3 linked regions of the Homo sapiens genome follow. The protein of the gene in region 3 purifies or fractionates together with the protein of the main gene of each other region. This does not show direct contact. Each region holds a gene or a part of one and is shown on either strand. Other genes may lie near its edges. The genes, in order: KLK15, SLC25A25 and GPRASP3.

What was found.
Region 1: the proteins of GPRASP3 (region 3) and KLK15 purify together in Homo sapiens (co-immunoprecipitation; one large-scale study listed by IntAct). This does not show direct contact.
Region 2: the proteins of GPRASP3 (region 3) and SLC25A25 purify together in Homo sapiens (co-immunoprecipitation; one large-scale study listed by IntAct). This does not show direct contact.

What each region holds. Positions count from the first base shown.
Region 1 is NC_000019.10:50,827,474-50,830,595, reverse strand, and holds part of KLK15 (kallikrein-15 isoform 4 preproprotein), read left to right. Parts: intron 1-31; exon of another isoform or gene 32-66; intron 67-2,780; coding exon 2,781-2,934; intron 2,935-3,122. UniProt on the Homo sapiens protein: Protease whose physiological substrate is not yet known.
Region 2 is NC_000009.12:128,099,232-128,102,731, reverse strand, and holds part of SLC25A25 (mitochondrial adenyl nucleotide antiporter SLC25A25), read right to left. Parts: intron 1,637-3,500; coding exon 1,510-1,636; intron 1,424-1,509; coding exon 1,336-1,423; intron 653-1,335; coding exon 617-652; intron 363-616; coding exon 251-362; intron 1-250. UniProt on the Homo sapiens protein: Electroneutral antiporter that most probably mediates the transport of adenyl nucleotides through the inner mitochondrial membrane.
Region 3 is NC_000023.11:102,727,119-102,730,847, reverse strand, and holds part of GPRASP3 (G protein-coupled receptor associated sorting protein 3), read right to left. Parts: intron 1-3,729. UniProt on the Homo sapiens protein: Survival and differentiation promoting protein that plays a role in the regulation of neurosynaptogenesis. Induces phosphatase PP2A activity which results in APP dephosphorylation and inhibits BACE1-mediated processing of APP.

The sequences.
Region 1 (3,122 bases), on a different chromosome or scaffold from region 3:
CCCCTCCGGCTCTCTCTGTGCACTCACCTACCTGCCTCGCGCCTGCCTGCTGCGCCCAGCTGGGGCCTCCACCTTCCTCTGGCTTGGACTGGCCAGGTGCAGCCTCGGTGCCCAGCTGTTCAGCCCGTACCCTCCGCCCTTCGGAGGACGACCTCACCCTTCCTTTGTTAAGCCCCTTGTCCACCACATCCGCATTCCCCTGGTCTCACGGGGGCCTTTGGCCCAGTTCCTGACTGTGATGGGGAGAGTGTGGGCATTTGGTCTGGCTGTGCAAATCCTGCCCCTGTGTGGGTGGGAGTGTGCATGGCTTCAACCTTCAGGGGATGCATCCACATTGCCCAGTGGAGAGGGGTCCTGGTCCTGTGACCTTGAATGTCTCTAATCATGTCCTTAAGCATAATGCCATTCTGTGTGTGTGTGTGTGTGTGTGTGTGTACATGCACGTGTGCAGTGGGTATACAAGGCCCTGTATGTTCACATCCTCTCCACATGCATGAGCCAGATCCCCATATGTGAAACCCAATCAGTGACTCCACAGATCTGGCTTGGGGGCTGATCTAGAGATGGATAAATATGTCCTGCCCTGGCTGCCTCTGGCTTCAGCTGCATGTCTTTGACCTTGAATGCCCAGCCCCGTGTCTGGGTGCTGCCCCAGACAGCAAGTCCACATCTGAGTGTTGGCCTTCTGGGTTGGTGTCTGCAGCTCTAACTCTACAAAATGTCTTGTGGGTGAATCACGGTTTTAACCTTGACTTTTTTTTGTTTGTTTGGTTTTTTTTGAGACGGAGTCTCGCTCTGCCGCCCAAGCTGGAGTTCAGTGGTGCAACCTCAGCTCACTGCAACCTCCGCCTCCCAGGTTCAAGCAATTCTGTCTCTGCCTCCCGAGTAGCTAGAATTACAGGCACGCACCACCACGCCCAGCTGATTTTTGTATTTTTATTTATTTATTTATTTATTTTTTAGTAGAGACGGGATTTCACGATGTTGGCCAGGCTGGTCTCAAACTCCTGACCTCAGGTGATCCACCCACCTCGGCCTTGGCCTCCCAAAGTGCTGGGATTACAGGCGTGAGCCACCACACCTGGCCAACCTTGACTATTTATTATAGGTAATTCTGTGCAGATGTCTGACTTATGTTGGCCATCTCCAGGATGGACCTGAACTTTCACACGTATGTCCCTGTGACTAAATCCAGGTGTCATTTGCAAAAAACAACTAATATTATTAAGTAGCTACCAGGGCTAGGTATCACTCACCATACATACACACATGCACACACACACATACACATTCCTACCTCATCCTTACAACAATCTTCATTTTACAGATGAGGAAACAGAGGCACAGACAGGTCGAATAACTTACTCAAAGTTTCACAGCTAGTACATTCGAACCCAGGCTTAAGGACCCATCTTTGTCCAGACCCTGTATGCAAGTGTCTGTGACACTGGATGCCAAGACTCACACTAGAGATGTTGAATTTAGGTCTGAACAATATCCAATTCTGTGTGTGTGTTTGTGTGTGCATGTGTGTGTGTGTATGTATTCATGTCTTAACCATCCATATTCATATACACATATGAACATCTGTGCTGTGATTCTTTTTTTTTTTTTTTTTTTTTTTTTGAGATGGAGTTTCACTCTTGTCACCCAGGCTGGAGTGCAATGGAGCAACCTCCGCTCACTGCAATCTCCGCCTCCCGGGTTCAAGCGATTTTCCTGCCTCAGCCTCCAGAGTAGCTGGGATTACAGGCACCCGCCACCATGCCCAGCTAATTTTTTGTATTTTTGTTAGAGACAGGGTTTCCCCATATTGGCCAGGCTGGTCTCGAACTCCTGACCTCAGGTGATCCACCCGCCTCGGCCTCCCAAAGTGCTGGGATTACAGGCATGAGCCACCGTGCCCAGCCTGTGCTGTGATTCTTGAAGCTGCAACCCATGTGCATGCAAGTGAATTTCAGCTTCCAGTCCTGTCCATAGCTGTACCTAAGTGTGGAAGCTGGATGTGCATGTATGCATGTCCATGACCTTGTATAGCCACATCTGGGACTCATACTGCACACTGAATTTGGCTGACATGTCCAGACTCTGGGGCCAAGGCTGGGTCACACATACTGAGTGGCCACATGCGTTTGACGTCTGTGACAATTTGGTGACCGTGAATGACTGGTTTCAAGTGACCACCTGTCTGAACCTGTATCCAGTGCCCCTGTCTCCACCCCCAACCACAGAGGACTTCTTGCCCTCTGGTCTGTTCCCCTTCCTCTCTCTCCCAGAGTCTTATAGCAAATGGGGTGGGGGCTAGAGTTCTGGAGAAAACAGGCAGCGGTTGTAAATAAACAACAGGGCAGGCGGAGCATGGTGGCTCACACCTGTAATCCCAGCACTTTGGGAGGCTGAGGCGGGCAGAGCATTTGAAGTCAGAAGTTTGAGACTACCCTGGCTAACATGGTGAGACCTCGTCTCTACTAAAAATACAAAAATTAGCCAGGTGTGGTGGCGGGCACCTCAGCTACTCGGGAGGCTGAGGCAGGAGGATCACTTGAACCCAGGAGGCGGAAGTTGCAGTGAGCTGAGATCATGCCACTGCACTCCAGCCTGGGCAAAAGAGTGAGACTCCGTCTCAAAAACAACAACAACAACAAACAAAAACAGGGCAGGGTGTCTTGAGAAGTTAGGGGAAAGGCATAGGCATATAGTAGTTAGGGCAGGGTGCAAGGAAGGTGTAGGAGGCAATGTAAACGTCCCTGTCCTCAGGCATCCTCTACCCCTTCTCTTAGCAGCCCAGGATGGTGACAAGTTGCTGGAAGGTGACGAGTGTGCACCCCACTCCCAGCCATGGCAAGTGGCTCTCTACGAGCGTGGACGCTTTAACTGTGGCGCTTCCCTCATCTCCCCACACTGGGTGCTGTCTGCGGCCCACTGCCAAAGCCGGTATGAAGGCAGGGGCTCAGGGTCCTGAGGGAGCCTGGTTCGGGGGGAAGAGCTCCTAGATTTGGGGGAAGACGGAGGCAGACGCCAGAACTCCTGGGTTCTGAAAGACGAGGAGGCCGGATGTCAAGCCCCTGGGTTAGGAAGGAGTGTGTGTTTCAAAGCCTTCGATCTCTGAAGGAGGAAGGAGA
Region 2 (3,500 bases), on a different chromosome or scaffold from region 3:
TGGGGACGGAGGGTGTTCCTGGAAGAGGAAGCCTGTGTGTGTGAACGATGGGGCTGTTCAGGTTGGCTGGAGTGCCAGAACATGGGGAACATGCGGACAGCTCTACTGGGCTGGCAGAAGAGGGGACAGTCTCCTGTGGAAGAGGAGGTGGCTGGAAAGCCCCAGCTGCACTCTGGGATGGGGACGACTGGGTGACTCTGGGCTAAGGGTCCCTGGGAGCAGATGAGGGCCCTGGGCACGTGGGGCTCACCGTGGAATGCTTCCAGTAGAGGATGATCTCGGGGATGTTTTCCACGGGGTGGAGGAGGTGGTAGTCTCTCCACTCGTTCCAGTCAATGGTCATCGTGCCGTTTTTATCCATGCTGCAAGACAGAGGCGAGGCTGCCCACGTGCCCACATGCCCATCCGCCAGCTGCATCCCCCCACCTCCCAGTGAGCCAAGGGCAGGCATTCGGATGCCCAGAAACCACACGAGGTGCCTCTGCCCCCAGGAGAAAGAGCAGGGGGCTCCACACCCCACTTAGCACAACAATGGCAATATAATGGCCCACAAGAATCCCGCTCTGATCAGGCATGGAAGTCAAGGGAGGCAGTCATGAGCGACATGGATACTTACTAGGTGACAGGGCCCCAGAAATGGCCCGTTCGTATTCTGACAGACAGACAAAGGATGCGGAGGAGAGAGCAGAAACAACACGCATAAGTGCTCGGAGCCATGTTAGTGAAGCAAGCACACACCCAGAGACAGGGGCACAGCACGGCACGAGACGAGCCCGCCACAGCAGCTGAGCCCAGGGCTGCTGTCCCCGAGGACCAGCCAGTGTTCAGACCGCAGGGTTTCCGGAAGGTCCAGCCAGGACAGACGGCAACTCCCAGGGCTGTTCCATGAGATTTCCTGGCAGCCGCCCCGCACCAGGGAGCTATCTTTTGGGGCAGCGCCTCTGACTAAAGTGTTAAGTGCAAGTTACCAGCATGGGGAAGAAATTCACCTGGGAACGAGGCTGCAGTGTGAGCCCCCCGCCCCGCCCCGCCCCCTCCACACGCACAGGTGCTCCTTGCTGGCCTTTTACCTATTTGAACCACCCCCAAATTAGTTTTCCCTTCATGGGCCACTGGCCGATGGGCAAAATTCCAGGTGATCTGTGATTCTTCCAATGAAAGCAGGCCTGCAACCCTGGGGAGGGGCTGGCCTCCCACAGGGGTTACTTATTCATCCTTTCAAACCACGAGAAGGCCAAGTTCAGGGTCAGCCCAGGGAATGGCATCGGAGGGTTAGTCTCAGAGCCTTCCCTTCATCACACTTAAACCAAACACAGAGGCTGGCTGAGCACTCACCTCTTGAGAATTTTTTCTGCCTGCTGTTCAGATATCTTGACTCCCAAGTCCCGCAGGGACTGCATGATCTCCTGCGCGTCAATGCGTCCTGCAAGAACAGAGGCCGTGAGCAGGAGCCAGGCGCACGGGGAGGCCCGAGGCTGGACCGGCCACAGCTCTGAAGGCAACACTTACCATCATTCTTTTTGTCCAAACTCTTAAACACCAGCCTCAGCTTCTTCTCATGATCTTGGAGATAATGGACAAATTCTTCAAAGTCTAGCTGCCCATCAAGGTCCTTATCTCCAGCTTGTACAATTTTCTAGAAAAGAAAGGTAACATTTTGTCTTTTGGCTCCTGGACCAGCCTTTCCTTGTCCCTTGTGGGGCCCCATCCCCAGGCAATGACTTCACTAATTGCGAGCAGAGCTGGCCCCAAGGACCCAAGATGCTTCTGCTCCACTCTCAGAGCCACCATGGCAATCGACTTACATGCCAGAGCCACCACCTAGAACCCCAGGTGCTGGCCAGAACCCAGGCAAGGGCCAATCTTGTCTCCCTCTCAAGCAGAGAGGAAACAAGGAGCCTGGGAAGAGCCCTCCGGACAGAGGCCGACAGGGACAGCTGGGCACTTTCTCAGTCTGAAGACCTGCGTGCCGTACAGCCAGGGTGAGCAGGGTGGCTTCGCTGCAGCGCCGTCCCTGGGTCCCTGGACCCAGGCTTCAACCACACATGCTCCCTGCTGAGACTTGGGGATGGCCATGGAGTCCAGTTTCTGACAGGAACTCTGCAGCTCGCTGTTTCTCTCCTAAAACTGGCATTGGTCCGAGAATAATTTGGTGGGCAGGTGAAAATCGGGGGCAGAGCCAGACTCTGCCACAGCACCCGAGGCCGGGGAAGTGTAAGGAGCCAAGGGCATGTGTATGATGGTACTGCCAGTCCCTGCTCTCAGGGAAGCCAGGTGATAGAGCTGCCCTGGCTCTCCCGCTCACTCACTGAAAAGCACTTTAGTGTCCCAAGAAGGCTTTGAGAGACTGTTCCTTGGCAATGAGGTTCCAAAAGTAACCCCCCCCGCCCCCGCCTCCCAGGAGGTGGGCTTTGTTCAGCAGCTGTTAATGGTTGGCAACTGGGACAGCTCCACGAGAGCACACATTTCCCCAGCACCTAGCACCGGCCGCAGGGCGTGCCAAATGCTTTACTTCTAGCAACCCACTTACCCCCCTCGCAAACAGCTCTAGGAGGTAGGAAATGTCATTTCCCCCATTTTACAGAGAAGGAAACAGGAGTTCCGAGAGCCTAAACATTTACACAAGGTCAGACAGCTAGGGAAGTGGTGGGCGGGATGCAAGTTGGGCCGTGGTCCTCCCAAGCCGCCTCCCTGCACATCCTGCCGCCACCCTCAAGGCTAACCTTCAGAACATGGGGGATGAAAGTGAGTCACCCCAACTCAGCAACGCCCTGAATCCGGAACCCAAAACTGGGACCGAGAATCTCCCAAGGAAGATGGTATAGTCTTCCTGTGTCCTCCGGATTTCTCACTGGGAGAAATCAACTGACAGCCAGCTGGGGTTTGGAAATGGATGGCCCACTGGCTAGCTCGCGTCCTCAAAGGATCACCACCGCGCCTCTCTCTTAGACACACTACTGACAGCGCCTTGTGATTCCTCAGCTGCCAAAGGTGTCAGGGGCAGGGAGGCCTGAACAGATACCCCATGACCTGGCGCGATCAAAAGGCTAATGTGAGGGGCGTGGCTGGAATGTAGGACAGATGCAGGTACATATTTTATCTGCTGAGGTTACATTTAACTTCCTGTGGACATCTGTGCTCTCAGACAAGAGTGACATAAATCACCTATAGGGTGACTGCTCCAAATCTCTAACAGGAATGGAAATAGAGTGGACAAGCCATTTAGGCAGGAGGCGAACATCAGGCATGGAGCCCTCTGGGACCCAGCCGCCTGCTGCCAGGGTGAGCCACATGCCTCCCTGGGGTGGGTGCTGTCGCAGACACCCAGAGCAGAGGGTGTGCTCACCGCAGCTGGCTTCAACGCATTCTCAAAGTGCTTGCTTCTGCCTCACAGGGCCTGGGCCTCCTTCTGTCTCCTTCCTTGGATCTGCAAATCCCCCTTGGTGCACAGTGGGCACTGGGGGTAGCAGGGAAACTGATTAACCGAGAAGCCGAGGTGG
Region 3 (3,729 bases):
AATAAAATACCTTTCTTTTTTTTTTTGTTCCTAAGCAGATAGCTACAGATAAAAGGTTAAATATCTCCACAGGTAGATATTACACATTTTCCTTACCTTATGTAAAGTGCTGATTTACTGTGAGCCAGAGGAATACAGAATTGACTATTCCTGTTTCTGCTCCTTTTCCCTTGCATCATGTGGATTACTGTACCCTCCCTCTTCCCCTCTAGCCTGCTGTTTCCATTTAAATATTGAAGCCCTCAAAATTATCTTTGGATAAAGGCACAGACCACAGACTGTTTCTGTGATTCCATGCTCTTTTCTTCTGGGAATGTCTTCACCTTGGCAAAATAAACTTCTAAATCAATTGAGACATGTCTTACATACTTTTTAGTTTACACTATTGACCTATCTTCAAGCTCAGGAGTCCCCAGCCCCTAGGCCACGGACCTGGACCCGTCCATGGCCTGTTAGGAACTGGGTCACACAGCAGGAGGTGAGTGGCGGGCTAGCCAGTAAATCTTCATCTGTATATACAGCCACTCCCCATCACTTTCATTGCCGCCTGAGCTCCGCCTTCTGGAAGATCAGCAGTGGCATTAGATTCTCATAAGAGCACAAACCGTATTGTGAACTGCACATGTGAAGGATCTAGGTTGCATGCTCCTTATGAGAATCTAATGCCTGATGATCTGTCACTGCCTCCCATCACCCCAAGATGGGACCATCTAGCTTTACAAAAACAATCTCCGGGCTCCCAGTGATTCTACATTATGGTGAATTGTATAATTATTTCATTATCTATTACAATGTAATAATAATAGAAATAAAGTACATAATACATGTAATGCACTTCAATTGTCCTGAAACCATGCCATTCGCCCCCCAGTCTATGGAAAAATTGTCTTCCACGAAATCTGCCCCTGGTGCCAAAAAAGATTGGGGACTGCTACTCAAGCTTGCTGAGTCTTTCCTCAACTGTGTCCAGTCTACTGATAATCCCATCAAAGGCATTCTTCATTTGCTGGAGTGCAGTGGCACAATTTCGGCTCACTGCAACCTCCACCTCCCGGGTTCAAGCGATTCTCCTGCCTCAGCCTCCTGAGTAGCTGGGATTACAGGCACCCGCCACCACGCCCAGCTAATTTTTGTACTTTTAGTAGAGATGGGGTTTCTCCATGTTGGCCAGGCTGATCTTGAACTCCTGACCTCAGGTGATCTACCCACCTCAGCCTCCCAAAGTGTTGGGATTACAGGCGTGAGCCACTGTGCCTGGGCTCTGTTACAGTATTTTTGATTTCTAGCATTTCCCTAAATATTCTTCTCAGGGAGAGTTTACATTTTGCAGCTCTTTTAACTGTTATTCACTGTTATCCACTATTATTATAATAAAGCCTTGTTAGCATGGTGGTGAAGTGCAGAGGAGAGGAAGTGTTCTATAATATTATGATTAAATTTCAGTCTTTTGTGGGCCTGTGTCCCTGGGCTTTGATTTTCATAAGAGTTTTATTTTAGCGCCTTTCTCTCCCTTACATGAGACTAGAAACCTAAAGGGGGCTGAAATAGGAGAAACGCCTTTCCCTCAGCTGAGATAAGGCTCTGATAAAGTCTTTTCCACCACAGAATAGGCTTTTTTTTTAAAAAATGAAGAAGGCTCTGGGTGTATTTCACAAAAGTACAGTTCCCTTCCCACTGCAGGGGCCATGAGGCCCTTCACTGCAAGAATATGGTGGGTTTCTTGGAAGTAATGCCCACAAAAGTGTGGGGACCTCCCTGACTGCAGATCCTCAGGGGTTTCTCACTCTCATATTATTCCACACTCAGTCTCCAGCAATTCATCAAAATTACATTTAAGTGCTCTTACCTATTTATGTCTCTAGCAGTTTCTGTTCTATGAAAGAAGAAATAGGCTGTGACTCTCTGGATTTGCCTTCAGAATTTGGGGTAGTCAACTGTCCTATGCCTCAGTTCTTTGAAGAATCTAAGAAATGTTGTTGATTCTGTTTGTTCAGATTTTTTTCTGGTTGTAAGTACAGGAGCAATGACTTACAAGTTCTTACATGTTGGAACTGAAACTGGAAGTCTGGCTATGGGTTTTAACAGGGAAGCTAAAGAGCAGTGAAAAATAAAAAATAAAAAATTTAAAATGGGCTGGGTGTGGTGGCTCACACCTTTAATCTCAGCACTTTGGGAGTCCAAGGTGGGAGGATCGCTTAAGTCCAGGAGCTCAAGAGCAGCCTAGGCAACATAGCAAGACCCCCTCTCTATTTAAAAAAAAAAAAAAAAAAAAAAAAAAGCAGTGCACATTGCTTTTGTCTGCTTCTTTTCTGCTGAACATCACATCTGGGAATTAGGTTGCCCTGGAAAACCCAGCTGCTCCATAAATATTAGCTCTTTTCACTCCCAGGTACAGGAAATTTATGGGGCTCCCTGAACCTGACATCTCAGCCCAAAAATTTGTAATGTGCAATGCAAATTAGACTTTTGACCTCCTGAATCAAAATTCCTGGTAATGGCCATGCACAATGGCTCATGCCTGTGATTCCAGCACTTTGGGAGGCCAAGGTGGGAGGGTCACTTGAGTGCAGGAATTCAAGACTGGCCTGGGCAATGCAGTTATACCTTGTTTCTACAAAAAATCTTTAAAAATTGAAAAATATATATATTATTGGTAATGAAGTCTGAGGAACTGTAACTTAATGCTAGGAGAGAAAAGTTGTCTATGTCACTACCACCACCACCACCATCAAGAGGCAGTGCATGATACTATTAGAATCTATAGTTTACATTAACTGCCTAATGATTGTTAAGTGCTTGCTTAGACTAGAGTAACTAGTTTCTGAGCCCTGGGAGTACATTCTAAAGGGAGTTTGTACAGAAGAGTTGGGAGTACCCAGATTTCAGAGCCAGACAGTCCAAAGTCTGAATACAGACTTTGTCACTATTTGTGTAACTTTAGCAAAGGTACTTAACGTCTTTATAACCCAGTTTCTTCATCCTTAAAAGGGAGCTGGCATTAACTACTTTACAGGATTATTGTGTATACTGAGAAAACTATTTGATATCCTGCACAACATGTGTATATCAGATCTTTCTAGTTCTTTTAAAATTTCTGATCTATTCCTATTATGGAGTGGGCTGGAGAAAGCAAGAAAGAATAGATGAGAACTACATGGTTTTTAAAGGTCATAATTGCTAAGTCAGTGTCACTGTGCTCTTTGTGCTGTAGCCTCAGTGCTTTGTATATTCTGTGTTGCTTACCATAACCCTTTACTAAAAGGATGCCATTTTTGCATAGTTGCCACTGCAGGTTACTGACTTTCTCCTCCTTTTAGTCACATGTCACAGAGAGGCTAATTCCATTTCCAAGAGTGAGTCTCTTTGGTCTACGGATAATCTATCCCCTTGGTACTCTCTTGTTTAGGAAGAGGCATTGATCAAATTCCACTCAATGTGACATTAGGGGAAGGTTACAGATGGACTTCTGAGGAAAGTGTCCTCATTCATAAGACAAAGTCATCAGAAAAGATTGTCTTTTCTTCTTCCTCAGGAAGTTGCTTACCTCCTGGAATTGTTGTAGCCATCAAGCTATCAGCCTTAGGACGGAAGTTGATATTGTGAATGGCAGAAGAAAGAGACGGAAAAAAGCTGAGTCCTTCGCTGAATTAAACAACCATCAAGGCTGCCCTACGTCAGTACTTACAATCATTGGATAATTAATTTCCTTATTAAGTTAGTTTTAGTTGA